Homo sapiens: one gene and its partners. The protein of the gene in region 3 purifies or fractionates together with the protein of the main gene of each other region. This does not show direct contact. Each region holds a gene or a part of one and is shown on either strand. Other genes may lie near its edges. The genes, in order: PRMT9, GLB1L2, P2RX1 and OMA1.

Region 1 (6,868 bases), on a different chromosome or scaffold from region 3:
GTCACCTTATAATGGTACCTTAACTCCACATACACTGTTTCAAACCTAGCCAATGCTCTCTCAATATCTTTAAATCTGTTACCTCCTCTCCATTCCCACAGTTACAACCTAATCTGGCCCTTGTAACCACTTGCTGGACTACAGCAACAGCCTTAACGCTGTCACTCTAATTCCAACTGCATCTCCCTCCATCCATTCTCCATGCTGCAATACTGTGGAAAGAGGGAAAGCTTTAGTCATTAAAACATTTTAAATCATCTTCACATATTTTATACAAAAGCGTTGATATTTGGAACTGAATCTTGAGGGAGTTTACTAGAGAGACAAGGATAAGAAAGGAGATTCTGGCCGGGCACGGTGGCTCATGCCTGTAATCCCAGCCCTTTGGGAGGCCAAGGCAGGCAGATCACCTGAGGTCAGGAGTTGAAGACCAGCATGGCCAACACGGTGAAACCCCATCTCTACTAAAAATATAAAAATTAGCCAAGCACGGTGGCGAACACCTATAATCCCTGCTACTCAGGAGGCTGAGGCAGGAGAATTGCTTGAACCCAGGAGGTGGAGGTTGCAGTGAACCGAGATCGCACCACTGCATTCCAGCCTGCGTGATACAGTGAGACTCTATAAAAAAAAAAAAAACCCCGCACAGATTATATGAAATGGATCAGAGGGTCTACAGATAAGTGGCTTGGTGTGGCCGGAGTTTGGGTATGGGGAATAGAGTAGCAGGCAATGAGCATTTTACAGGGGGCCCATACAAACAAACACAGACTTTGTTCGGCAGGAAACAGACTAGTTGCTTACCCTACTGAATGTCAGGCATTGCACTACAAATTTTAAATATACTTTTTTATTTTTTCTTTTTGAGATGGAGTCATACACTGTCGCCCAGGCTGGAGTGCAATGGCACAATCTGGACTTACTGCAACCTCCGCCTCCCGAGTTCAAGCAATTCTTCTGCGTCAGCCTCCTGAGTAGCTGGGACTACAGGCACATGCCACCACGCCCAGCTAATTTTTTATTTTTATTTTTTTTTCTGAGACAGAGTTTCGCTCTTGTTGCCCAGGCTGGAGCGCAATGGCGTGATCTCGGCTCACCACAACCTCTGCCTCCCAGGTTCAAGCAATTCTCCTGCCTCAGCCTCTCGAGTAGCTGTGATTACAGGCATGCACCACCACGCCCAGCTAATTTTGTACTTTTAGTAGAGACGGGGTTTCTCCATGTTGAGGCTGGTCTCGAACTACTGACCTCAGGTGATCCACCCGTCTCTGCCTCCCAAAGTGCTGGGATTACAGGCGTGAGCCACCGCGCCCGGCCTAATTTTTTAATTTTTAGTAGAGACAGGTTTTCACCATATTGGCCAGGCTGGTCTCAAACTCCTGACCTTGTGATCCACCCGCCTCCGCCTCCCAAAGTGCTGGGATTACAGGCCTGAGCCAGCACACCCAGTCTAAATATACTTTTAATACCCAGTAAACATTTTTAAGAGAGGCTGCGTCCCTGTTTCACAGAAGAGGAAACTAAGAAACAAGTAACTGAGGAAAGATCACTTGAGTTGATCCATTTTTCTATTGCTGCCTACCAAGAGAAGCAAACTGTATCTCAACATATCATCTCCTCCTCAAGTAGGACAGCTGGTCCTGAAATTTACACTAAGTTTACATGAACTACAAACATCTAGACGCTACTGACATTTAGTGGGTAGAGATCAAGGATGCTGCCAAACATACTGCAATGCACAGGACACCTCCCCTCCCCCATAACAAAGAATTATCCCATTCAAAATGTCAATAGTGCTGAGGTTGACAAACCCTCAGTCTAAATGAAGCAAAGTAATTGCAATTTTAAGTTAAATCATTTTTCGTAATTTAGATTCTAAAAGTACTTCAAAAAAGAACAGCATTTCAACAGAGTAATTGTTGCAAATAATCCAATAATTGAAGTTTAAAGAACGCATCATTAAATGATAATCACTTTAGGCTAATTACACACTTTATTCAACTAGAGGCCCACTATATTCCTACTACACACAATATAACAAATCCAAAAGCCCTCAAGCCAGGGCATGCTTAAATTAGATATAAGGAGAAGAGGATCACGTGAGACCTCATTTCCAATTCGAGGGCCTTTAAAATTTTAAACGAGATGAAAGTTTTGAAACTGAGAAATGACAACATTTGACTTTTGTTGCAAAAAGCTAGCTATGTTGACACAGACTGCAGGAGAGAGCTCAGTTGAGAGCCGACTGCAACAGCCGGCAGATGACTGAAGCTCGAACCAGGGTAGTAAAGGGGAAGATGGTGAGAACTGGTAAGATTCTGGACATATTTCGAAGGTGAAGACGGCAGGATTTTCCTCTGGGCTGGTCGTAGGTGTGAATAAACGAAAGATGTCAAGGTTGAACAGTAAACATTAATAGCAAACACCCAACCAAGCACCCTAGCCCCTCCGCCTTTTTTCTTTTCTTTTTTTTTACGAGGACGTTGGATCGGCCAGCAAGTGAGAAAAAAGGGCCCTAAATATTAACAGCAACCACCCACCCAGGCACCCTAGCCCCTCCGCTTTTTTTTTTTTCTGTTTTTTTTTTTTTTTTTACGAGGACGTTGGATCTGCCAGCAAGTGAGAAAAAAGGACCCTCACCTTCACGTCGTGTTTCAGCTCCGGCGCCAGGCTGAGCACGAGGAGGTAGTGGGCATAGGCAGTGCCGAAGTCCTGGACGCCCAGACAGTGCTCTGCGCTCTGCAAGGACCGCGACACCAGCTCGTCCCGGCCGGCTGCCCCAGCGCCACCCCCGGCGTCTCGGCGGGACCTGGGCCGCGAGTTCGACATGGCAGTCACCACTTGTATGGCCAAAGGGAAGATATTTTGTAAACGTAATTAGAAAACTCTCTCGATGCTACACTTCCAGGGACCAGACAACTGCTCAAAAAACAGCACAGCAAAGTTACCCTCCGCCGCGGGTGAACTCGCCAACCCCAGCCCAGGCGGAAGCTCCGCCCCGTCCTGGCCCCGCGGGCGGCGCAGACCGTGACGCATACCCCACTATTGCGCACCTGGCCAGCGGCGCACGCTACGCGAACGTCAGCGCGCCCGACGTGGGCACGTCACTGCTGCCCATTCCCGCAGGAGCGACCACTGTGCGTGAGCATAGGAGAACGTCTGTGGCAGGACCTGTCCGGTCTTGCGCCCTTTTTTTTTCCCGGCTGAAAGCAGAGCTTTCTCTCCCTCTTGCACTCCGGGAGTGTGTGGCTTTCGACTGCAAGACCCTGTTGTACAGACCCAGGCAGCGCGAAGCGCCACCCGCTCATGAGGGACGGTCAAGCATTTGTGATGATGCTTAAGACATTTTGGATCGTGATGCACAAAATTTCAAGACCTGAAAGAACCTGGAGATAACAAAAGCATCTCAGACGTGGTAGAGGAAATGCTTTCACAGGCATTTCAAATCATTCTCACAAAACCTGGCTAGGTGGACCTTTGGATCACACTCGTCTTAATGATGGCAAACGTGGTATCTTGAGAAGTGACTTGCTGGAGGTCACACAACCAGCTAGTGGCATAGGCATGGTTCAAATCCAAGTTCTCTGACCACCTATCTGTTCAGTTATAAGATGAGCTTAGGGGTTATTTCACTGTTCGTGTCTTATCACTGTATAGTGTTTACATTAATACAAAGTTTTTCCACATTCAAGTGTGGCCTCTAAGATACAGATTCGAAACTCAAAGGGAGGGGAGCATAGTTATTACGGCTGAAAAGTTATTTTTGTCCCCATTTTCAAATTCATTAATGGATAATATCTTAAATCGAGCATTTTGCATATCACACTAATACATTTTGAGGGCTCCTCTAATTCTCAAAAACACGTCATGCATTTTTGCCTTCTCTTCTGATCCAATTATCTGAACTACCCTTTTTTCTGAGCACTCGCCTGTGTAAATCCTAATCCGTTTTTCAGGTTCCAGCTCACTACATTGTGAGCTATTCTTAATCACTTTTGTGACCTTTGCACCTAGCGGATTATGATGCAAAGTAAGGACTTTGATTTTTTCTTCTTTCTTTTCTTTCTTTTCTTTTTTTTCTTTTTTTTTTTTTTTTTTTTTTTTTTTTTTTTGAGACAGAGCCTCACTCTGTCGCCAGGCTGGAGTGCAGTGGTGCGATCTCGGCTCACTGCAACCTCTACCTCCCAAGTTCAAGCGATTCTCCTGCCTCAGCCTTCCGAGTAGCTGGGATTACAGGCATGCACCACCACGCCCGGGTAATTTTGTCTTTTTAGTAGAGACAGGGTTTCTCCATGTTGGTCAGGCTGGTCTCAAGCTCCTGACCTCAGGTGATCCGCCCGCCTCAGCCCCCCAAAGTGCTGGGATTACAGGCATGAGCCACTGCACCAGGCCAATTATTTGCATTTTTTCGTGGTTTATCTATAACTTCAAGATTTTCTGTACATAGAATAGGTCATTTGAAAAAATGGAATGACACAAATAACATGGAACATCTGGTCACCTTAAGAAACTGGAATTGGCAACAGCCTTTCATGCTAAAAACTCTCAATAAATTAGGTATTGATGGGATGTATCTCAAAATAATAAGAGCTATTTATGACAGACCCACAGCCAATATCATACTGAATGGGCAAAAACTGGAAGCATTCCCTTTGAAAACTGGCACAAGACAGGGATGCCCTCTCTCACCACTCCTATTCAACATAGTGTTGGAAGTTCTGGCCAGGGCAAACAGGCAGGAGAAAGAAATAAAGGGTATTCAATTAGGAAAAGAGGAAGTCAAATTGTCCCTGTTTGCAGATGACATGATTGTATATTTAGAAAACCCCATCATCTCAGCCCAAAATCTCCTTAAGCTGATAAGCAACTTCAGCAAAGTGTCAGGATACAAAATCAATGTGCAAAAATCACAGGCATTTCTATACACCAATAACAGACAGAGAGCCAAATCATGAGTGAATTCCCATTCACAATTGCTTCAAAAAGAATAAAATACCTAGGAATCCAACTTACAAGGGACGTGAAGGACCTCTTCAAGGAGAATTACAAACCACTGCTCAATGAAATAAGAGAGGACACAAACAAATGGAAGAACATTCCATGCTCATGGATAGGAAGAATCAATATCGTGAAAATGGCCACACCGCCCAAGGTAATTTACAGATTCAGTGCCATCCCCATCAAGCTAACAATAACTTTCTTCACAGAATTTGAAAAAACTACTTTAAAGTTCATATAGAACCAAAAAAGAGCCCGCATTGTCACGACAATCCTAAGCCAAAAGAACAAAGCTGGAGGCATCATGCTACCTGACTTCAAACTATACTATAAGGCTATAGTAACCAAAACAGCAAGGTACTGGTACCAAAACAGAGATATAGACCAATGGTACAGAACAGAGCCATTAGAAACAATACCACACATCTACAACCATCTGATCTTTCACAAACCTGACAAAAACAAGAAATGGGGAAAGGATTCCCTATTTAATAAATGGTGCTGGGCAAACTGGCTAGCCATATGTAGAAAGCTGAAACTAGATCCCTTCCTTACACCTTATACAAAAATTAATTGAAGATGGATTAAAGACTTAAATGTTAGACCTAAAACCATAAAAACGCTAAAAGAAATCCTAGGCAATACCATTCAGGACATAGGCATGGGCAAGGACATCATGACTAAAACACCAAAAGCAATGGCAACAAAAGCCAAAATTGACAAATGGGATCTAATTAAACTAAAGAGCTTCTGCATAGCAAAAGAAACTACCATCAGAGTGAACAGGCAACCTACAGAATGGGAGAAAATTTTTGCAATCTACCCATCTGACAAAGGGCTAATATCCAGAATCTACAAAGAACTTAAACAAATTTACAAGAAAAAATCAAACAACCCCATCAAAAATTGGGCGAAGGCTATGAACAGACACTTCTCAAAAGAAGACATTTGTGCAGCCAACAGACACAGGAAAAAATGCTCATTGTCACTGGCCATCAGAGAAATGCAAATCATAACCACAATGAGATACCATCTCACACCAGTTAGAATGGCGATCATTAAAAAGTCAGGAAACAACAGGTGCTGGAGAGGATGTGGAGAAATAGGAACAATTTTACACTGTTGGTGGGACTGTAAACTAGTTCAACCATTGTGGAAGACAGTGTGGTGATTCCTCAAGGATCTAGAACTAGAAATACCATTTGACCCAGCCATCCCATTACTGGGTATACACCTAAAGGATTATAAATCATGCTGCTATAGACACATGCACTCGTATGTTTATTGCGGCACTATTCACAATAGCAAAGACTTGGAACCAACCCAAATGCCCATCAGTGATAGATTGGATTAAGAAAATGTGGCACATGGCCGGGCACGGTGGCTCACGCCTATAATCCCAGCACTTTGGGAGGCCAAGGCAGTCGGATCACGAGGTCAGGAGATCGAGACCATCCTGGCTAACACGGTGAAACCCCGTCTCTACTAAAAGTATAAAAAATTAGCCAGGCATGGTGGCAGGCACCTGTAGTCCCAGCTACTTGGGAGGCTGAGGCAGGAGAATGGTGTGAACCCGGGAGGTGGAGCTTGCAGTGAGCCGAGATCATGCCACTGCACTCCAGCCTGGGTGACAGAGCGAGACTCGTCTCAAAAAAAAAAAAAAAAGAAAAAATGTGGCACATATACACCATGGAATACTATGCAGCCATAAAAAAGGATGAGCTCATGTCCTTTGTAGGGACATGGATGAAGCTGGAAACCATCATTCTGAGCAAACTATTGCAAGGATAGAAAACCAAACACCACATGTTCTCACTCATAGGTGGGAATTGAACAATGAGAACACTTGGACACAGGAAGGGGAACATCA
Region 2 (7,031 bases), on a different chromosome or scaffold from region 3:
TGCACGCAGATCAACTGGGGTCGAGGTGGGACAGTAAGGAAGTAACTCTTTAGGGGTCTGAGAGCAGAAGCGAGGGCCTGAGTTGGAACTTGAGTCTGCTGTCTGCTGGGTACCTGAGATGGAGCCGAAGAAGTCTCGAAGCTTCATGTACTTGGCCGTGTAATCGCCGGCTTCTGTCAGCACAGCATCATAGTCTGCAAGACACCGGGCCCTGTCATGGTCATTCCTGTCCCCAGCACAGCACATGTAGCACGAAGAACAGGGAGAAGCTTGGAAGGGCCACAGGTCTTCATCTCAGCCATTGGGGAGGCAAGACACTTTTGAGCCATTCAGTCAAAATACTGTAAACATGAAAGACCAGGCAACTACAACAAGCGTCCATAAGGCCAGGTGCAGCGGCTCACACCTGCAATCCCAGCACTTTGGGAGGCCAAGGCAGGAGGATCGCTTGTGCAGTGGCTCACACCTGTAATCCCAGCACTTTGGGAGGCCAAGGCAAGAGGATCGCTTGTGCAGCAGCTCGCACCTGTAATCCCAGCACTTTGGGAGGCCAAGGCAGGAGGATCGCTCGAGGCCAGGAGTTCCAGACCAGCCTGGGCAACATAGCGAGACCCCCACCTCTACAAAAAATTTTAAAAATTAGCCAGAGGTGGGGGTGCACACCTGTAGTCCCAGCTACTCAGGAGGCCGAAGCAGGAGGATCACTTGAGCCCAGGTATTTGAGGCTGCAGTGAGCTATGATCACACTACTACACTCCAGCCTGGGTGTCAGAGTGATAACTCTCTCACAAATTCAAAAAAACACAAACTGTCCATGATCACAGCATGGCCCTAAATTTCTAGCTGCAGGTGTAATTTCTACTTTCTGGGACTCTCAACCTAAAGGAGGCAGGATCACACCTCCTCAAGGGCCTGGGCAGGGAGGGGAGGCCACCGTCCCTCCCTGTCCCCCTAGGGCGGTCTCCTTCCACTTCCTCAGGCCAACCTTTGCCAAAGAGGCCTCTCTGTAGAGTGACCAGCTCACAGGCACACCACCTCCCTTGAGGCTTCCCTCCTCTGGGAGTGTAACATGACTGTCCAGGCAAGTACCTTCTCCAGGTACTCTATTGCCAAAGACACGAAGGTGCCAGAAGTTGACCCTGAGGGCCTCTCCATAGCAAGTCCCAGCCATGCCCATGCAGGGCAGACCAGGGAGAGCAGTGCTGATGAATACTTGCCATAGCTGGTGACATCTGACTTGTAGTCATGGAAGTGCATGGCTCCATTCATGAAGCCAAAGTTGGTGCCTCCGTGGAACATGTAGAGGTTGATGGAGGAGCCGGCGTCCACAATGGCAGACACGGTTTTCAAAACCTCTGCCGGAGGAGGGAGAAAGGGGATGTGCAGAGTGAGTTAAAGTCTGAGATGAGCCGGGGTCCCTTCACTACTCTCCTCTTTCCCAGTCCCACCTCAAAACCTCAAGGCCAACTTTGTCACTCTGTCCTTCTAGCTCTCATAAAACCCCAATCACAGAAGATTAGGGGTGGAGGAGGAAGTGTGGGCCAGAATCATGGCCCCAGAGCTCGAGCCTCCAGTTGTCTGTCAATCCTGGTCAAGTCTCTGAGCTCCATGTGGACCACCTGCAGCCCAGGTCGGCCAGGGCCTTCCAGCCAGCACAGTCTCCATGTGAGTCTGCCTGACCAGGTGTATCAAGTGCACAAAGATGGGATGCATCCTTAGAGAGAAAACTCTGACACCTCCTATTCTACCTTTGTTAGGAAATGAACCATGACATAACAAGATCATAGCAAAGGAGAAAAACAAATGGTTAATAAATATATATTTTATCAATATAAATCAAAGAAATGCAGACTAAACAATGATGTACTGAGTAGACAAATATTAAAAGTTATTTTAATACTCGGTGTTGCTGAATCTGTGGGAAATGGGTGCACCCATTCAGCAGCAGCGGCTGAAGCTGCCGTCTTTCCGGGGGCTGAGGGGCGAGCATGCACATCTACACGGTGCCGAGGAGCCCCTGTGCCGCTCATCCCAGGGAAAGCCGGGTGCGCAGAGCGCAGGCTCCGGGATGCTCACCGGGATGCTCGCCGGGATGGCGTGCGCTTAACAGAACCACCAGAAACAACCCGGGAGACTGTGTCCACAAAGTGTGGTTTAGAATGGGGCTCTTCACATTCTTTAAAACAGTCATGTAAATCTGTATTTGGTCATACAGAAAGCTGTCCGTATGTGCATTAACTGGCACAAGCAGGTGACATGCAGCGGAGTGTGATGGCATCTGTCTCTATCTGTGTGTGCGTATAGAGCTGTCGGCAGAGATACAGAGAGAACTGCCTGCGTGGTAAACAGCTAAGTGTTTTCTCTGTGCTCTGGGAATTTTATTTCTTCTCTATACTTTTTCTGTATTTTCTGGATGTTTGCAATAGGCATGCATTACCCTTCTAATTACAAAAACACGAACAAGCAATGTTAAAAGCCCTCCCATTCATCCAAGTGTCAAGACAAATGACTCAGGAATATCCAAAGCCAACTTCTGCACACAGATAATCCCAGCAGCCTTGCACCCCCTATGGCTTACATTAGTTAGCAGGTGACTGAAACTCATCCTCACTTCTTAAGTAGCACACATTCTGGATGTAGTCACCGCAAGCACTCACCAGAAGAATCCAAGATATTGTGAGGGCCTCCCCACGAGTCAAACCACCCCGTCCAGTACTCCATCACCATCTTGGGCTGAGTCCCCTGGACACCACAAAATGAGAGTTAGACAAGCAGGCTGGCCAGACAAAAAAGAGGGAAGCTCTTCATGGAGGGGAGCCCCAGGATCTCTGCCCTCTCTACTCTTCCCTGTCTGCATACCCACTGCCTTAGAGGTCTTTGGAGGTGGGGCATAGGTGAGGGCCAAATTCGCCTGCACACCAGTTCTCCTGCCACATGTGGCCTCCTGCAGGTATAGAGCAGATAAAGCTCCCAAAGTCGATATGGCAAACCCTGATGGTTTTAATGTTGCATACGTGTTAGCAAGAAGACACTGGTCCAGGATCAAGCCAAGCTTTGCCTGTCCTCTTCCAGGGAAGGGGGATGTTTTACCCAGGACAACTCCATATCTGAGAGGGATACTGTGGATGCAGATCCCTCCCCCCCACCCTGGGTACTGGCTCCATTAGCAGAAAAATCAGACGCTGCAGAGTGGGCCCTCTTCAAGGTCCAACTCAGTTTAAACAGCAGTTTGCAGCATTTTCTGAACCAGAAAATCAGGGCCTTACAGCACAGCTATTCATGGTGCAGGTTCTGCACTGACAGTTTGGATTTATACCTTGGCTGGGCCACTCAACAAATCTTAAATCTTCTTTCTGAATACTGACTTTGGCATAGGACGGCCCCAAGGAGGCCAAGATCATTCCTGGGACCATGCTCCACTCTGCCACGTTTGCAGAAGCCCAGAGCACCTGGGGGAGGTGTAAAGACTAACACGCTAGTATTTCAGGCTCTGCATGAGAGAGCCTTCCTCACTTATTCAGTGACAGCTTGTCAAGTATCTCTAGGTCAGTGATAGCCTTATGTTTAGAGGGATACCGCATACACAGCAACAAAATCTGATCCAGGGGGATGGGACAAACTCACGGTCCATTGAGTAGAAGGTACCAGCCATACCCGGGTTAAAGCCAAAGTAGTTACAAGAATTCTTCTAGCAAGACTGGCGGCTTGGTTTTCTTTACAAGCCACCTACCTTCCAAGAAGGAGACATACCATACCACGTTTAAATCACTAAAAAGGGAGAAGCAGATTCAAAGTCCCACAAGTCAGAAATCTCCCATGCCAGAAGCAAGGTTGTTGGCTTGAGGGTACCAGAGCTGCGGAGGTGGGTGTCCACCCATGGGCCAGGCCACTGCACTGCACAACTGGCTAAGAGCTGGAGCTCTGTAGTGAGACTGTTCTGCAGTCCCCAAGCCACTACTTACAGGGTGTCTTATACACTCTATAGCTGTCTCCTTCACTGGCTCATATGACTATTGGGAGAATTAAACGGGAGAGTGCACATAACACCCTTAGCACACTGTTCCTGGCAGGTAGGAGGTGCTCAAGAAACACTTGCATAGTTCTGTCCATCACGGGTCATGGACACAGAGGACGAGTGAGGTGCTATCGGACATCGCCACATGGAGCACACCTGGAGGCCTGTGCTGTGCATTCAGAGAGCCCTTGATTTAAACAGGGAGGTGTCCAAGTCCCCTTCCTTCAGGAAAACAGACATCTCTGGACTGCGCACATAAAGCCCTTCAGCAGGGCCATTCTGTTAGCAGGACAGCTGGCCTGGGAAGGCTCGCGCGTGGCTACCCCTCTAAGGATGACCTTGAAGGCTAAACATAAGGCATTCTGCTGTATCAGCTGCTGTGCTAGGCACTTTCCAAATATTACCTCATTTAATCTTCAAACAACCCTGTGAGTTGACACCATAAGGAAATGTACTCTCATCATCCCCACTTAGAAGAAGAGAGACGCACAGAGAGGTTAAGTAACTTGCCCAAGGTCACACAGCACAGGGCAGGAGACCCTGTCATCTCAGTCACAAGTATGAGAGGCACCCCCCACTCCACTGCACACATGGGCAGGCACTCAGGAAATGCCAAGAAAGGAAGGCAGAGACCCAGCTGGATCGCGCCTGATCTGCGTCACAGGAGCCTGCCTGGGAGCGGGGCCAGCCCTCCCACCTCCTCCTGGGAGCCTCCTCGCCTACTCTGGCAGCTGAACTCCAGGAGAAGCCACATCAAACACACACACGGCCCCACACGGCTGTGGTGGCTCCACGCAGATGTGCCTGAGGACACAGCCCCTGCTCTGAAAGGCCATCAGCCGGAATGGAAAGCAGCCCAGCGTCTCCACAGCCATCCATGCCTGTCCATCCAAGCACAACTCCACTCCAGGCCCAGGACCAGTGTGACGATGCAGCGTGGGGGCAGTCTGGAGCATCCACGCCCCTCAGTGAGCCAGGGGACAGCTGGGGCCTCTCAGGTCTGCAGAGGGCTGCAGCATGGCCCTGTCCATCCACCTGCTTCGGAGGGGCACGCGAGCTCGAGAAAGAGGCCAGTCAGAACTACAGGGTGGCATAAATGCCCATCAGTCTGACAGATATTGAGGGACATCTGGAAACTCCTCCCTCTCTCCGCACCTGGAGTGGACCAGGCTTTCTGCCTTGCTGATGACAATAATCTTTCTAGGATTGCAGGGGCCTCACAGGTTAAGGTCGGATGCCTGTGTAGTATAGGACAGGGAAGTTTTTCCTTCCCCCCTCAATCCCTGGGAGCAAGTCTGGAGCTAGTTGAGGCCACAAAAGTCGAGTCCTCTAGGAGTGCACCAAAAGGGCCCCTCTCTCAGGGCAGTGGGTGATGTCCACACTGCATCAGCCTACACAGCAGCCCTCAGAGGTGTTTCTGGGCAGCGGGCCTTGCAGGCACACAGTGGCATGGGCGGGGGGCCAGAGGCCATCAGCCCTGAGTCCAGCTCCCTGCGCTGGGGAAGCTGAGCACGCTGACAGGCATTCAGAATTCCCATAGGCCGCTGAGCAGGGCGGGCCGCAGCTTCCCTGGGGCTGGACTTACCTGGACGTTGAAGAGAAAGGTGGTCAGTAGCTGCAGCTCGTGTGTTGACTGCAAGTTGATGGTGGCCAAGACTGTTAAAGGGAAGAGGAGAGAGAGAGACAAAGCACTGTCTCAAAGCCAGGGACCTTCTAGGTGACCCCAGACCCTTCTCAATCCACCAGCACAATAAAGTAAGCGGCCCTGACACCGTTTCCCACCTCCAGTTAGAAGTCAGCCACAGTCAGGCGCGGTGGCTCACACCTGTAACCCCAACACTTTGGGAGGCTAAGGCAGGTGGATCACTTGAGGCCAGGAGTTCGAGACCAGCCTGGCCAGCATGGTGAAACCCCCTCTCTACTAAAATACACAAAAAAATTAGCCAGGGTTGGTGGTGCATGCCTGTAATCCCAACTACTTGGGAGGCTGAGGTGGGAGGATCACTTGAACCCAAGAGGCAGAAGTTGCAGTGAACTGAGATTGTGCCATTGCACCCTAGCCTGGGTGACAGAGTGAGACTGTGTCTCACAAAAATAAATAAATAAATAAGTCAGCCAGGACGCCAGGAGACTTATCTTGTTGTCTTGGAGACTCCGCCACAGCAGCACAGAGCTGAGAGGCAGTCACTCGCTGTGCACCTGATCTCAATCAACTGTGACTTCTACAAGCCGAGCATGCACTCTGTTCCTTGTTCTTTTGTACGAACCAGAGCCTGATCCTTCCTTGGCACCCCAAGCATCCGGTCCAAGGTAATGATGTAAACAAAGATTCCTCTCTGATTTCTTGATAAGGGCTAATTCTGTATTCTACCCCATAACATGTTCCGTTTAAAATTTAAAATGCTATTTTCAGTGGCTTTCTATCAGTGAAACATATGCTCAAGAAAGGTGCGCTCTGTTTGGCTGACACCCGGGCATGCCCACGCCCACCCCAGTGGCACAGCCTTATCCTGGGGCCCCTCACCTGCCTGCTATCTGCCTAACAGTCAGTTCACAGGCACAGCCTAGGCACACACCAGAGAGGCTGAGCCAGCCTGGCAAGCCAGGCCACCCTGATGCTCTGCTGCAGGACGAAAGCCTCTGATTGCCAGTGAAGGAACGCAAGCGACAGCTGGGGCTCCGGGGAAGTGAAATAACTTGCCTCTAGGTCACAATAATTGGCCTCAGGTAGCGGCAGAGCGGGACTGCACACCTGGGTCTCCCTGACACCATACCATAGCTCTGCCCTGTCCCTGCCCTCCAGCAGCCCACTGGGTGGGACCCTCCACCCAGACCCCTCCCCTCAAGCCAGAAGCCCTTTGAAGACAGGAGGCCAGTCTGAAACTGAGCAGGCTGAACTCAAAGTCCGCAGGATGCACAGGGCTAAGTGAACACAAGCATCTCTGTCCTGTCCTTCCTGATACGTCTCACAAATACAAGCGGAGAGTGGACAGGTAGACGGCCATGAGGAACAGCA
Region 3 (7,031 bases):
GATCAAGTGAGTGAGTTCATACATGTAGAAACACTCAGAATGGGGATGGCACAGAATAAATGCAGTATAGACATTAGTTGTTATTATGATCCAGCCATGCTGGGACCCCCTGGGAGACAGCGAGGAAAACAGAGCAGGGAGGTGGTCCTCTGGAGGGCTTGCAGCGTCCAGCCCCTCGGTCGAGGCACTGTGGGAGTGGCTCAGTCGGGAGGTCTTCCAGTTTTCTTGGGAAATTCTGGCCTTGCCTTCCCAGCATTGAGCTGTCCCGTTCCTTTGGATTCTCCACTTTCAGTCTGGAAGGTTCCATGAGGCTAACCTCCCTCTTAGCCCCAGGAGTTGGGCAGATAACCAAGGCTTGCCAATCAATGTTCCATCCCCCTAGTAACAGTGACGGGTCTAAGGACACGCACATGACCTGAGGAGTTTCAGCAATGAGGCCAGGACTTTTCTGGGAATTGCCAGGAAAGAAACATCCTGTCTATTGAGTGGCTAAGCAGGGTGGCTGCAAGACGAAAACTATGGTAGTCATCTTTGCCACCTTCTGGAGAGAGCAATCCTGACAATGAAGCTCTCCTAGAGGAAAGCCAGGCCAGGAGATAGAGAGGGGCAGAATCCTGACAATGTTGTTTGAGCACCTGGATTCAGCCATACCTGAAGCACAGTTGAAAAATCTACTTCTGGACTTTTCAGTTACGTAAACCAATAAATGTCCTTCCTTTGTTTAAGCCAGTTCGGATTTGGTTTCTGTTGCTTGCAAATGAAATAGTCCTGGATAACACTCCTCTCCAGGCTGTGGCCCCTTCCTCGAGGAAAGACTCTTTTTGGAGATTCAGGGTAACGTGTGTGTGTGTGTGTGTGTGTGTGTGTGTGTGTGTGTTGGGGTATGGGGTGTGTGGCTGTATACCTGCAGGGCAAATCTGTGAGTGCACCTGTGGCCAGATGTATCATCCCCCTCCACTCCTTACCCTACCCCGAGCTCACCTGTCCAAGGGGAGCTCAAAGCAATGGACTCCCTGCTCCTTCCCCCAGGGCTCAGATCTGGTAACAGAACTCTCCAGGCCTCTTAGTCCCAGAGTCACCTCTCTCCCTGCTGCAGGCCCCAGGGAGGCCACCCACCAATGTCCTCTTCTTTCTTCTCATGGCCCACCCACCTCTTCTCTAAGCCCCCTCTCACCTTGGCACTGGGGCCAAGTCACATGCTCCCGAAGCCTAAGCTTGGTCACTGCTGTCCCCTGCAGGTCCCAGATAGCAACAGGTGGAGGCATGACAAAGGCCTCTGATCCTCAGTGTCCTGAGTCTGTCACGCTGCCTCCAGCCCCATCAGGGAGAGCAAGAGCATTGCCCATCCCCCCACTGGCCTCCTTGGGCCCCTTCCTCCAGGAGGGCCTCTGGTTCTGTGTCCAAGCCAGAAGGAGCTGATGCAGGGGGGAGGAGGAGTTTCTCCTTGTCCTGGGCCCCTCTGCAGGACAGGCCACTGACCTCCCTCTCGGCACCTTCAGCCCCAACAGCTTAGCAACGTTTCTATCTTTGCCCAAAACGAACTTTCTACCTTTTCCCAAGAGACAGGGAAGCTGAGGCCTGCAGGAGTGGCGGTCTCAAGTGTCCCCATGCTTGAGGCACCCAGCCCAGGACTCAGCCCACCTCCACTGAGCAACACTGGCTTCGACGTGTCTCCCAGGAGGCAGAGCACAGAGGGGAAACAGAGCCACCTGGAGCCCACAAGCCGGGGCTGATGCACCTTGGAGCTGCCGGTCTTGAGGTCGAAGGGAAAGGTCGGTCAGATCTGGCATTCATGACCTCAACTCTGGTGATAATAGAATGACTATGGGCTGGGCGCGGTGGCTCATGCCTGTAATCTCAGCACTTTGGGAGGCCAAGGCAGGTGGATCACCTGAGGTCAGGAGTTCAAGACCAGCTTGGCCAACATGGTGAAACCCCAACTCTACTAAAAATACAAAAACTAGCCGGGCATGGTGGTGGCGGGCACCTGTAATCCCGCTACTTGGGAGGCTGAGGCAGAGACTCACTTGAACCTCAGAGGCGGAGGTTGCAGTGAGCCAAGATTGCACTCTGCACCCCAGCCTAGGCGACAAGAGTGAGACTCCGTCTCAAAAAAACAAAAAATAATAATAGAATGACTATGGTGCCAGGCCTGCTCCTCCAAAGCCATGCCTTGATCTGGCCTTATTGTCACCACCCTGGGAAGACAACCAAGAGGGCCTGATGTCAGACACAGGCATCTTCAGAAGCCTCTCCCCTTCCAGAAATAACCCTCACCATGCTTTCTACCTCGTCATCAGCAATCCCCCATCCTGGGGCTCTCCAATGGCCTTCTCAAGGAAGAGGCCACAGGGTGGAGTGGCTGAGGGTCAGGTGCCAGCCCTGCTGCTCCCCAGCTGTGTGGCTTCAGGCTAGAGACTACACCTCTCTGAGCCCTGGTTTTCTCAATAAAACAGAGGTGACGCCACCTACCTCAAAGGCGCTGCTTATTCATTAAGTGTTTAGTGAGGCTCTGCTACAAACTCAGCCTGGGCCCCAGGAGACAGAAGCATCTAGGTAAGTGTTTGGGGGAAGCTTCTATGAGTTCTTTTTTTTTTGAGATGGAGTCTCAGTCTGTTGCCCAGGCTGGAGTGCGGTGGCACGATCTTGGCTCACTGCAACCTCCACCTCCCGGGTTCAAGCAATTCTCCCACCTCAACCTCCCGAGTAGCTGGGACTACGGGCGCGCCCCACCACGCCCGGCTAATTTTTTTTATTTTTAGTAGAGAGAGGGTTTCGCCATGTTGGTCAGGCTGGTCTGGAACTCCTGACCTCGTGATCCGCCCGCCTCGGCCTCCCAAGGTGCTGGGATTACAGGCGGGAGCCACCGCGCCCGGCCTCTATGAGTTCTTAAGGAAATTAGCACAGTGCCTGGCACTCAGTGGGCACATATAATGAAAACCTCCCATTTTCACTGTTCTCCGTTCCTCCTTCACAAATTCCTCTTTCAATGTTGATCCGCCCCCATTCCCTGAGTGAGCTGCCTCAGACACGCTGTGTCCCCAGAATTCTATCTCCAGACTGCACTCTCCCCTGAGATTCAATTCCACACATTCAATCATTCAACAAACATGAGCCGGGTGTGGTGGCTCAGGCCTGCAATTCTAGCACTTTGGGAGGCTGAGAGGGGAGGATCACCTGAGGCCAGGAGTTAGAGACCAGCCTGGGCAACATAGTAACACGCTGTCTCTACTAAAAAACAAAAACAAACACGTATTTATCCAGCCCCTATTCATGCGCCAAACACTGTTGAACAAAACAAACACAAAAGTGAACAAAACAAACAAAAATCTCGCACCCAAGGGTCTTACACAGATGCTCCTCAAATGACGATGGGGCTATAACCTGATAAACCCATCCTGAGTCAAAAGGCTCTTAATACCCCCAATAAACCCACCATAAAGTCAAAAAATCCTAAGTCAAACCACGCTAAGTCCAGATGCTCCTCAATTTACAATGTGGTGATGTCCTGATAAATTCTTTTTTTTTTTTTTTTTTTTTTGAGACGGAGTCTCGCTCTGTCCCCCAGACTGGAGTGCAATGAGGCGATCTAGGCTCACTGCAACCTCTGCCTCCCGGATTCAAGCGATTTTCCTGCCTCAGCCTCCTGAGGAGCTGGGATTACAGGCGCACACCAACACGCCTGGCTAATTTTTGTATTTTTAGTATAGACGGGGCTTCACCATGTTGGCCAGGCTGGTCTTGAACTCCTGACCTCAGGTGATCCACCCACCTCTGCCTCCCAAAGTGCTGGGATTACAGGCATGAGCCACTGTGCCCGGCCTACGAAATCTATTTCGTGCCAAGCACTAACCACTATACAGACAGAAATTCAATTGGATCAACCTGAACTCTTCATCTCCCTTTAGAACTTGTTCCCCTGTGTCCTCGTCATGGAGAATGGTGCTGTCCTCACCCTATCACCCAGGCTCAACACCCAGGCAGCATCCTCACAGCCACCCTCCCCATCATGCCCCCACATTCATTGGATCCCCCAGTCCTTCTGGTCCTCCCTCGGCTTTCATCTAAGGACCCAGAAGGGCTGGTTTTGGGAAGGCTGAGACACTGGAGGAGCTGGGACAGGTGCGGGGGCAGCTCTGGCATGGGTTGGGAGGACCGGCCAGGTGGCTGGTGGGACACAGGGTATGGCCATGGGCCACAGGCAGGAGTTGACCAGATGGGGCGTGTGCTGTCAGGGAGCAGCAGCCTTGGGGAGGGGCATGAGCAGACTCCAGGCCTGGGAGGGAATGTGCTCAGAACTGGGGCCCACCCTGAGGCCCCCATGCAACCCGCAGACAAGTCGAGGGGCATCTGGGTTAAGTTCCTTGAGTGCAGGATCTTGGTTTGTTTTGTTCACTTCTGTATTTTTAGTGTCTAGAATAGTGCTTGGCACATAATAGGAACTCAACAAACACTGTGTGTTGAATGACTAACTGAATGTGGAATTGAATCTCAGGCCAACCATTTGTGTTTTTAATTATTTTATTTTTATTGTTCTTTATTTATTTTTGAGACAGGGTGTCACTCTGTCCTCCAGGCTGGAGTGCACTGGTGCAGTCGTGGCTCACTGCAGCCTCAACTTTCCAGGCTCAGGTGATCCTCCCACCTCAGCCTCCTGAGTAGCTGGGACTGACTACAGGCACGCGCCACCACACCTGGGTAATTTTTTTTTTTTTTTTTAGATACAGGGCCTCACTGTGTTGGCCAGGCTGGTCTTGGACCCCTGAGCTGAAGTGATCCGCTCACTTTGGCCTCCCAAAGTGCTGGGTTTACAGGCGTGCACCATGGCACCCGGTCTGTTTTTCTTTCTTTCTTTCTTTCTTTTTTTTTGAATACGTCACCAATCTCTAAAAACCAAGCGGTTTCTTTCATGCATAAATCTCACTTCCCACTTCTCTTGAGACGTCGGAAGCTCTGGCTGTGCCAGGTGTTACGTGCTGCGGCAACAATGGGCAGAAGCTGAGCAGGGGCCGCCCCAGGCGTGAGGCCTGCCGGGGTGACGACATCTGTCACCCGTGCTCACTGCCTCTGCCTTGGGTCCCGCCCCGTCCCCCCTTCCCATCCCTGCGGCCTCTTCACAGCTGTCCTGCCTCCGGTCCCCACGCCCACCCCTGCCTGCTCCAGGCCCTCCCCTGCTAGACATCCTGTCTTGGCTCCCTTCTGCCTGCAGAAGAAATCCGGGCGCCTCAGCCTGGTGTTCAAAGGCCTTCGCCATCGCCCCTGCTCTCCCTTTCACAGCCTCTCCCTTGGGCTCCTTTTATGGCCCCTTCAGCCTAGTCCCAGTGACACCTTCTCTATTCCTCTCCGGCCCCAAGACCTTGGTTCACACTGTGTCCCGACAGGAGAGCCTGGAAGGGTGGGCACGCAACCAGGCTCCTCCAATCAGGGCATTCCGTTTCCTTGACTGCAATGATTGATTGGTTCTGGGGTGGGCACGGGACCCGACCCCGGCCAATAAGAATTGAACCTGAGACTTTTGCTGGAGCTCTGGAGAAGGAGCCACTCTTGTGCCTCGGGAGTGGCTAAACTGGTGAGATGTTAGCTTGGAGCTGCTGGTGGCCGTTTCACCACTGTGAAGACAGAGAACTTGCCTGAGAATGAAGCCTCCACAGAGGAAAGAAGAGCCAGGAAAGGGAGATAGGTCATGGGCAGCTTCTTTTGAGAACCAAGACTGGACCCGCAGGAATTCCTCATCCCCTCTCCCCTCTAAACCTTACTCCTCCTGTGTCTTCATCCTGGAGGATCCAGCCGGGCCTGAAACCCACACTGATTTTTCAGTTACATAAACCACCGGATACCCCCACCTTTCCTTTTATTTATATATTCATTTATTTGTTTGTTTTTTTATTTTTTTTTTTGAGACGGAGTCTCACCCTGTTGCCCAGGCTGGAGTGCAGTGGTGCGATCTCGGCTCACTGCCATCTCCGCCCCCCAAGTTCAATCGATTCTCCTGCTTCAGCCTCCCGAGTAGCTGGGATTACAGGCGTGCGCCACCACACCCAGCTAATTTTTGTATTTTTAGTAGAGATGGGTTTTCACCATGTTGGCTAGGCTGGTCTCAAACTCCTGACCTCAAGTGATCCACCCGCCTTAGCCTCCCAGAGTGCTGGGATTACAGGCGTGAGCCAACGCACCCGGCCCACCCTTCCTTTTAAATCTGTTTGATTAGACTTTTCTCACAGGAACCAAAGGAGTCTGGCTAATTCACCCTCAGTTCCTCCCTCTCCCTCTCTCCATTCCATGTCCCACCTCTGTTCCCCGGCACAGCACCAGGCATGGAGAAGATGCTGCAGAAACGGTCCCTGGATGTGTTTCTCCCCCCAATAATTTCTATCCATCCTTCTCCCTGATTGGTGCACTCTGATCTCCACTTGGAGATCTCAGAACATGTGATTTCAAGAGGTCTGTGTGGAGGCGCAGGGGATGAGTGAGGACTTAGTTGAGAAGAGACCCAGAGGGACTGGAGAGAAAGCTGAGAGCAGGCCAGCCCAGCCCACAGCCCCCAGGTCTTTGCTTATGGCTGGTTCCATCAGTGTGTCACCTCCTCCAGGAAGGCCTCCCTGGCTTCCTCCCCACTGCCTGTACACCACCAGGGACAGAGAGCTCATCAGCTCTTCGGGGAGAGCTCTAACTGAGACCATCTTTTTTTTTTTTTTTTTGAGATGGAGTCTCACTCTGTCACTCAGGCTGGAGTGCAATGGGGCAATCTCAGCTCCACTCTGCCTCCAGGGTTCAAGTGATTCTGCTGCCTCAGCCTCCCAAGTAGCTGGGATTACAGGCGTGCACCACCACACCCAGCTAATTTTTTCTATTTTTAGTAGAGACGGGGTTTCACCATGTTGGCCAGGCTGATCTCAAACTCCTGACCTCAGGTGATCCTCCCACCTCAGCCTCCCAAAGTGTTGGGATGACAGGCATGAGCCACTGTGCCCAGCCTTAACTGAGACCATCTTAACTGGATCTGAGAGGGTCAGCTCAGCTCAGCCTTCTGG
Region 4 (7,801 bases), on a different chromosome or scaffold from region 3:
GGAATCTGATCATGTGTCTCAGTCAGTTCAGGTTGCTACAACAAAGTACTGTAGACTGACTGGCTTCAGCAACAAACTATTTTTTCTTACAGTTTGGGAAGCTGAAAGTCTGAAATGAAGATGCCAGCATGGTTGGATTTTGTGAGGACCCTCTTCCTCGTGTACGAACAGCTGTCTTGTTTTATCCTCACGTGGCAGAGTGGGAGCTCTCTGATCCCTTTATCTCCTTACAGACTTGAATCTCATTCATGAGAGCTCCACCCCCATGACCTAATTACCTCCTAAAGGCCCCCATTTCCAAATACTGTTAATATTGGGAATTTAGGGGTCAACATATGAATTTCAGAGGGATACAAACATTCAGTCCATAGCACGTTGATTAAAAAATTGCTTAAAGGGCAGCACAAAGAAGATGTACAGCCAGAACAGAGGACTTATTCAAACTCTAAATCCTCCAGCAGCCGTGACCGGGAAAATGTGCCGCTCAGATCTGCTCTGGGGAGCATAGTTGACTGCCAGGCCCTGCCCCTGACCTTCTGGCTCCCCAACTCCATTTGTAACAAGCGCATGCTCCCCATAGACTGCTCTTAGCCAATGATCATGCATGGTGTGAACACTAGTGGATGCCCATCTCTGCAAAATATGGAACTCCTCTAAGCAGGCAATTTTGGCCTAAGGACTCCTCATTTTCAAAACCTTCTTAGAACTGTGCTACTACCTGAGGTGCTTCTAATCCAGTCTTTCTTCTTTCCCTCTCTCCTTTAACCAGTGTCATGATCTGAGGGCCCTTCCTGTCTATTCCTGCTCCTGCTCCATTATCCTTCCCAGGATTTTCCACGCAGTAAATATGTCTTGCACATCTGATTCCACCCTGGCATCTGCTTTTTAGAGGGCCTGTTGATACAGGTGGACTAGAAGTGGGGTGATCTGAGAAGAAGATGGTAAGATCGGCTCTGAGAGTGGCTCATTAATTGCCCAACTGGCTACAAGAACTCCATCTTGAGTGGAATGTGGGGTCTTGGATAGTGTCTGGCACAAGATAGTGGCCCCCGTGTGGATTTCAGTGATGGCGACCTGGGAAACTGGCCCAGTGGAGGGCAATGCCATTTAGGTGAGATAGTTAATGCACTTGAAAGATGGAGGGAGCAGTGTCTGAAAGAACAGTGCAGTGGGCTGGTTATTGCTACATTGTGTTGATGCCCTGCATGGGATAATGAGAAAGTGAGGGTCATTTGTAAACAGTTAAGGCTGAGTGGGAGTCAGAGGTCTCCTTGGTAGGTAACAGACAGGCTCTTATCACCTGCAGTGGAGGAGTGTGGACAGCAGAGGAGCAAAAGAGATTTTCATGAAAAGAGTTGTAGAGCCCCAGAGATGTTTAAACGCTTAGCCAAGGCAGGTCTGGGCCCTGGTTGGGAAAATCTGGAATCTTGAAGCATGAAATGGGACATCCTGATAGAATCCCTGAGGATACTGACTGCAGATCCTCAGAGCTTGCAGAGGTGGCTGACCCTTCCCTAGTCAAAGCTAACACTTCCCTTAAGTGGGAAGGCAGTGTTGAAGCCTCTAGCGTAAGGAATAAATAGGTGCCCACTCAGGACCTGCCCCATCTCCTCTTAGATATCTGCCAGGGTGATAACTCAGGTTAAATTCCAGCATCACCCAGCTGCCTGTGTGTTGGGCCTGTAAAGGTGTGGGGAGGAAGACTGCATAATGTAGGAGCTAAAGGAACTACCTAGCGTGTACCAGCAGGAGCCAGGAGAGGACCCCTGGAATGGGATTTCTGAAGGTGCTTGATCAAAGTGGGCAGGAACTGTGGCGGGATTGATAAGGAATCAGAGATACCAAGAGGTTGAGGAGGATTTATTATTTAGGTGCACCGGCCCAGTCGGATTAACATCCAAAGGACTGAGCCCCGAACAAAGAGTCAAGTTACCTTTTAAGCATTTTATGGGGTTGGGGGAGATCTGTGCAGGGAGAAGCATGTTACAGAAGCAAGAAACAAAGACAGTTATTTAATTAATTGAGGCATGCATTACATCATTTCTTACTTTTCAAGGAAAAACGTGTCTTAATGGCTTGAGTTTATCTGTCTAGTGACCTTGCAGCGCACAGCTAAAGAAACAGGGTCTTTACAATGCCTGGGAAAGGGAGAGATAAGGCTCACTAGCCACAGAAAAACAGGCAGTTAATATTTAAAGGACTCCAGCTCTTTCTCTTTCTCGGGGGGAGGTGGGTTTTCTTACATAGAACTGAGTTTCTGTTTACACATTCTTTAATTTCTTTTAATTCCTATTCCAGAACAAGCCTGGCTAAATAAAAATTCATTGTCTTGGGGGCACTTTCTTGGGACTTGGGACTGTAGAAGATGGGTAAACTCACTGCTAGGTGACTATTAGAAGCTGAGAGAAAGCCATAGTGCATGCAGAGTAAAGCAGGAATGCCCGAATTGCCCTTGCAAATGGTAGAAGGACAGAGGAGCTGAGGGAAGTGGACTTGCCTGAAAGAATTTTTTTTGTGTGTAGAGCCCGAAGGCAGACAGAGGGGAATGTTCCATGGGAGGCCCAGAGGATGCATCATATTCTATGGCCATGGGGAATGCACTGGCGTGAGGGGCACTAGCATCACTAAGAAGTTCAGAGAAGGCTCTCCTCTGGAGGGAAGGGCTGACGGTAGGAGAGGCAATCACAGGGCTGGGCTTGATAATATCCATTGGGATAACAGGATCCTGAAGTAGTAGAAGCCAGGTGGTGGCTTTAACCATGAGGACACCAGAAGATGTAATTACTGTAACATCTGCCAAGGGCAGAGGAGCAGCCAAGGGGGCTTGATCCACAGGAGGTTGTGGAGGGCTTTAATAGCATAAGGTCTCCCTAGGGGAAAAACAGACGGGCAGCCAACAAGAGTGTTGCCTAACATCTACAACTGGAGGAAGACAAGAAGCTATTTATCCTATGCAGGGAGTAGTTGCTTAATAAAAGGCACTGCTCATTGCTCAAGTCTCAGACCTGAGCCTATCTTCACACTGAGACCACAGAATCTGTTGACTTAAGAGGTTGTTGGGTCCCTATAAAGAAGAATCCTGCAATACTGAAACAAATATTTACTGTAATTAATGATTACTCTTTGGTCTGTGTCCCACGGCCATTTTCTTGACTGATTTTATGTTGAGGAAAGAGGAATACCCAGACATTTCACAGGTGTTACCCAAAGTATGTAACACACATGGCTCCTCTCTAAGTGTGGGGGCTTATGGGGATCAGGTAATAAGCAGAGTCCTGGATAATGTCCAGCTTACAGTGGGTCCAGGAATACACTGACCCATCCAGTAGTCATTTTCTTAGTTCCTGAGTGCATAATTGGGAGTACATATTGGGCAGCTGGAGCAATCTCCACATTGGTAAGAAGCTCAGGGTCCTTGGTCTTGAGTTATCATGGTGGGGAAAGCCAATGGGAAGCCTCTGAAGCTGTCCTTCTTTCCAAGTGAAGATAATAAATCAAAACCGATATTTCATCTGAGGGGATAGTGAGATGATGGTGGAGATTAATGTCATAATTAAAGACCTGAAATATACAAGAGTGGTTGGTCATCCCTGCCATATCTCTACTTAACTTGCCAGTCTGGCCCCTTTGGAAATCAGGTGGACCCAGGATAATGACATAATGGCTCTGCGCAGTCCAAAAGGAGCTGGATCAACTGGAAATTCCAGAGAACATCACACCCATCTATTTCACCAATGACATTATGCTAACCAGGCAAGATGAGCAAGAGGTGGCTAGCATGCTGGAAACTTTGGTAAGACATGTGCACTCCAGAGTTTGGGAGATAAACCCTACGAAGACTGAAGGACCTCCTACTTCAGTTTTTAGGGGTCCAGTTGTCAGGGGTTTTCCAGGATATCCCTTTCAAAGTAAAAGGCAAATCATAAAATACACATAAGATAAACGAAACAGTAACTTACACATTTTCCAAAAGAGATACCTAAAATTGTTCATAGTGTTTATGTCCTTTGACATAGTGTTTATGTCCTTTGAGATGTTTTCATTGTGCACAGAGTGTAAACATAATAAACTAATATGAGACCTCACTACTCATCCATCACAATCCAGTGTTTATTTGTACTGGCTTATTTGTACACTTTTATTTATTTGTGTTTATTTGTACACTTTTTTTTAATCGCCTGTCTTTCCTCACTGTGATATAAAGTTCACGAAATTCAGGTCTGTCTTGTTCACTGCTACATCCTTGGCACTTAAAATGTAGTTGATGCTCAAGAAATATGTTTTGGTGAAATGAATGAAACATACTATACACATAATTTTGGAGCCAGCTACTTTAACCTCCAGACACTTAAGATTATACTTCATCTTTCTTAAAATGCGTCCCTCCAAAAATCATATGAAAGCACTGTTCCCATACTCCAAAGACTATTTCTATGAATGCAGATTCAGAACCAGGAAGCCTTCGTCTTTTGGCAGTCTTCGAGTCTCTTCCCTTTTGGCCGGTACTGCCGTAGAGACTACAACGGACACAGCCTTGCGTGGATCATTCTTTAGAGGACCCAACTCACCAAAGACGGGAGAAAGTTGTTCCTAGGCAAGCAGCCCAGCCCAGGGCCATGTCCCGCCTTAAGCCACACGGAGGCGCTAGAGCGCCACAGTCTCCGCGGGGCCCGGGGCAGCTGGGAGAACGACTCTGGGCGGCTGTATTGACTGCCGGGTGTGGGCGGAGCGAAGGGCGCCCCGGCCGGTATGGCGGGCAGGAAGTGCGGGTGCGCGCCTGCGCATAGGTCGGGTCTGCGGTGTCACCGCTTTCGCTTCTGCTTGAGTCAGTCCTCACGGTGACGCTTTTCCCCAGCTTTTCCGAGTAGGATCGTGCCCAGGGGAGGAGGCAGAGTGCGGCAGTGGGGAGGGGGCGGAGCGCAGAGCGCCTGCGGGGGCGCCCGGGCAAGGAGTGGGGATCCTTGGGGATGGGGGTACGGGAGGAGGCGTGGGTGGGCGATAAGGCTGCGTGGAGGGGAGGGGCGGGGGGCGCCGGGGCGGGAGACGGAGGGGATCTGTCCTGGGGGAGCCCGGTTCTCCCCTAGCCTTGCCCGGGGCACGCCGGTGACCCCGTGTGTCTGCCCCGTGGCAGTACTTTCGTGGGCCGCCTGCCCTCCCCCTCAGCCCGCCCTTATCCGCGGCTCCGCTTTCAGAGCAGGGTTTCTCACCCGCGGGGCTTCGGGCTCCTCACCCGGCACCTCTGCCAGAGGGGACCGCCTCCCGGCGCGTCGGGCATTCGTCTCTTTCACCCCTTCCCTCTTCAGGAGAAACTGAACACGTTTTCCAGCCTAAACTCGGCAGGGCAAACCAGAACATTCCCCGTCTAAGCAGTTCCGGGGAGTTTTAACAATTTCCTCGTAAACTCGTCTACAGAACTCACTGTATACTGTTTAAATGTCGCCTGTGTGTGGAGCAACAGTTTTATTGTGCCGTGCAATCCTCAACAAGAAATTGTAGTCCAGGGAGATGAAAATCCCTTATTTGGCATTCAGGCGTTGATCAAGGTCGTGCAACCCTCGCTAAAAGGATTTAGGTTCATCTCCGTCATTCTCAGCCGGGGTGAAGGGGTGTAGTCTGACATTTGGAAGCTTAAGAACCAAGTCTGCTGCCGTCCAATTCTTTTTTAAAGCCTTCCATCATGTGTGTACTTTGCTTGAATGATTATTTTAAAGTACATGTCCTATTTTTGCCAATCTGACAGCTGTTTCCATAGAAACTAGAGAAGAAATAGTCATTTTCAGCAAGAGTTGTTAAAACTGTCTTCCAGGCTTCAGCTGTGAGTGCCAGTGAGTGCTGCACTTGCTCATTCGGAGATGGTACTTAAAGAATTAAGGATCTGAAATGTTCGTAGAGGCTAACAATCCAAATTGTTTAATTTTCTCACATCATTAATTTTGTTATCCTAGAAGTCTGCCAGCTATGTTTGTTGACCTGCCACAGCTCTTTGAAGAGAATATGTCAGCCCTGATTTTTTTTTTTCTTATGTGCTCTGTAGTCTAGTGATTGGCTCCTTGAAAATGCATGAATAGATTTCTTCCCTCATTCTTTACCCTTTCTTCAGGATAAACCGGGTATTACAAAATATCAGGCACTGTTTCTATTCAAAACGACACTTGGTTGTCAGTGATAGAAATGATAATGGTTTTAATTATATATGCGTAGTGTTGGGGCTTTTGCTTATACCTTCTGTGTCAATAGGATTCTTTTAAAATTTTTACACAAGTCATGAGAAATGAGAAGGAGTTTGCTTGTCATGTGCAGAGCTAAGCAGTGTGAATAGATGTGCATAGACATAGAGATGAGAGCTTTCTTTTTCTGTGGGGTGTAAGTAAATCAGGGAGTTTGGAATTTAGGAATGGGTGAAGGAGGGTTGGGGAAGGTGCCTGGAGAAGTAGTAGGAGGGCCTGGTTCGCCATATGAAGGAGTTTGTGGAAGCCATGGAAAACCAACGAAAGTCCAGGCGTGGTGGCTCATGACTGTAATCCCAACACTTCGCAGTGCAGTATGATCAGTTGAGCCCAGGAGTTAAAAACCAGCCTGGGCAACATAGTGACACACCGTGTCTACAGAAAAAAATTAAAAAATTAGCTGGGCTGGCCAGGTGCGGTGGCTCAGGCCTATAATCCCAACACTTTGGGAGACCGAGGTGAGCAGATCACTTGAGGCCAGGAGTTCGAGACTAGCCTGGGCAATTTGCCGAAACCCCGTCTCTACTAAAAATACAAAAATTAGCCAGATGTGGTAATGCATGCTTGTAATCCCAGCTACTGAGGAGACTGAGGCACGAGAATTGCTTGAACCCAAGAGGCGAGGTTGCAGTGAGCCGAGGTGGCACCACTGCACTCCAGCCTGGACAACGACAAAGTGAGACCCTGTCTCGAAAAGAAAAGAAAAACAATGGGAATTACAGAAATAGTTGCCTGAGTGGAGGTTTAAAAAAGTAATAATACATCCCGTAGAAATTTGAACTGCACAGAAATATATAAGGTGAAAATACTAATAATCCCTCTTAACCACCATCCTGCCATTCAAAATAATTGTGAATAGTTTGGTGTATCTTTTTTCAGATTTATTTTTGTATATACTAGCATATTTTCTCATTACTATTTTTGCAAATTGGGGAGGGTTTTTTAAAATCTGTTTTGTTCTCTGCAGTATCTCTAGCATCCATTATGGTGCCTAGCATTTAGTGGGCACTCATTAAACATTTTCAGAATGAATGAATAATAATACAGTTCAGAGGTCAAAAATACAAAATCTGAATGTTTGGTTAAGGTCGTTAAAATTTTTTAAGTTCATTGCCAACATTTAAAAATTGATAAATTTCACCTAAAATCTGAAATTCTGGCTTTACTTAAAAGTTTTGAATCATTTGGCCACAGCAAGTTCAAATTCCATCATAACTGTTTGCACCTCCTTTAGATGGTCATGAATCTGCATTCACATCAGTATCACTTTGCTGATATTCACTTGCCTGGACCCTACAAACCTGTACTGTGCGATACAGTAGACACTAGCCACATATGGCCATTTAACTGAGTTAAAAATTTCATTCCTCAGATGCACCAGTCACATTTCAAATGCTCAGTAGCCACATGTAGGGGCTACCTTATTGGACAGTGCAGACATGAACATTTTTATCATTGTAGAAAGGTCTGTTGTATGGTGCTTCTTTAGACGTTTGAGTTTGCCACCTCTGTTATACAGAAGTTTTTAGGTAGCATTTATTATTATTTTTAAATTTGTATATCCCTTTGCCAGA

The links.
Region 1: the proteins of P2RX1 (region 3) and PRMT9 purify together in Homo sapiens (affinity purification with mass spectrometry; 2 studies listed by BioGRID and IntAct, with this or other methods). This does not show direct contact.
Region 2: the proteins of P2RX1 (region 3) and GLB1L2 purify together in Homo sapiens (affinity purification with mass spectrometry; 2 studies listed by BioGRID and IntAct, with this or other methods). This does not show direct contact.
Region 4: the proteins of P2RX1 (region 3) and OMA1 purify together in Homo sapiens (affinity purification with mass spectrometry; 2 studies listed by BioGRID and IntAct, with this or other methods). This does not show direct contact.

What each region holds. Positions count from the first base shown.
Region 1 is NC_000004.12:147,681,159-147,688,026, forward strand, and holds the start of PRMT9 (protein arginine N-methyltransferase 9), read right to left. Parts: upstream 3,006-6,868; 5' UTR 2,830-3,005; coding exon 2,641-2,829; intron 1-2,640. UniProt on the Homo sapiens protein: Arginine methyltransferase that can both catalyze the formation of omega-N monomethylarginine (MMA) and symmetrical dimethylarginine (sDMA). Specifically mediates the symmetrical dimethylation of SF3B2.
Region 2 is NC_000011.10:134,362,968-134,369,998, reverse strand, and holds part of GLB1L2 (beta-galactosidase-1-like protein 2 isoform b precursor), read right to left. Parts: intron 5,672-7,031; coding exon 5,601-5,671; intron 2,743-5,600; coding exon 2,658-2,742; intron 1,356-2,657; coding exon 1,218-1,355; intron 195-1,217; coding exon 114-194; intron 1-113.
Region 3 is NC_000017.11:3,906,452-3,913,482, forward strand, and holds part of P2RX1 (P2X purinoceptor 1), read right to left. Parts: intron 1-7,031.
Region 4 is NC_000001.11:58,543,727-58,551,527, reverse strand, and holds the start of OMA1 (metalloendopeptidase OMA1, mitochondrial precursor), read left to right. Parts: upstream 1-4,801; 5' UTR 4,802-4,825; intron 4,826-7,801. UniProt on the Homo sapiens protein: Metalloprotease that is part of the quality control system in the inner membrane of mitochondria. Activated in response to various mitochondrial stress, leading to the proteolytic cleavage of target proteins, such as OPA1, UQCC3 and DELE1.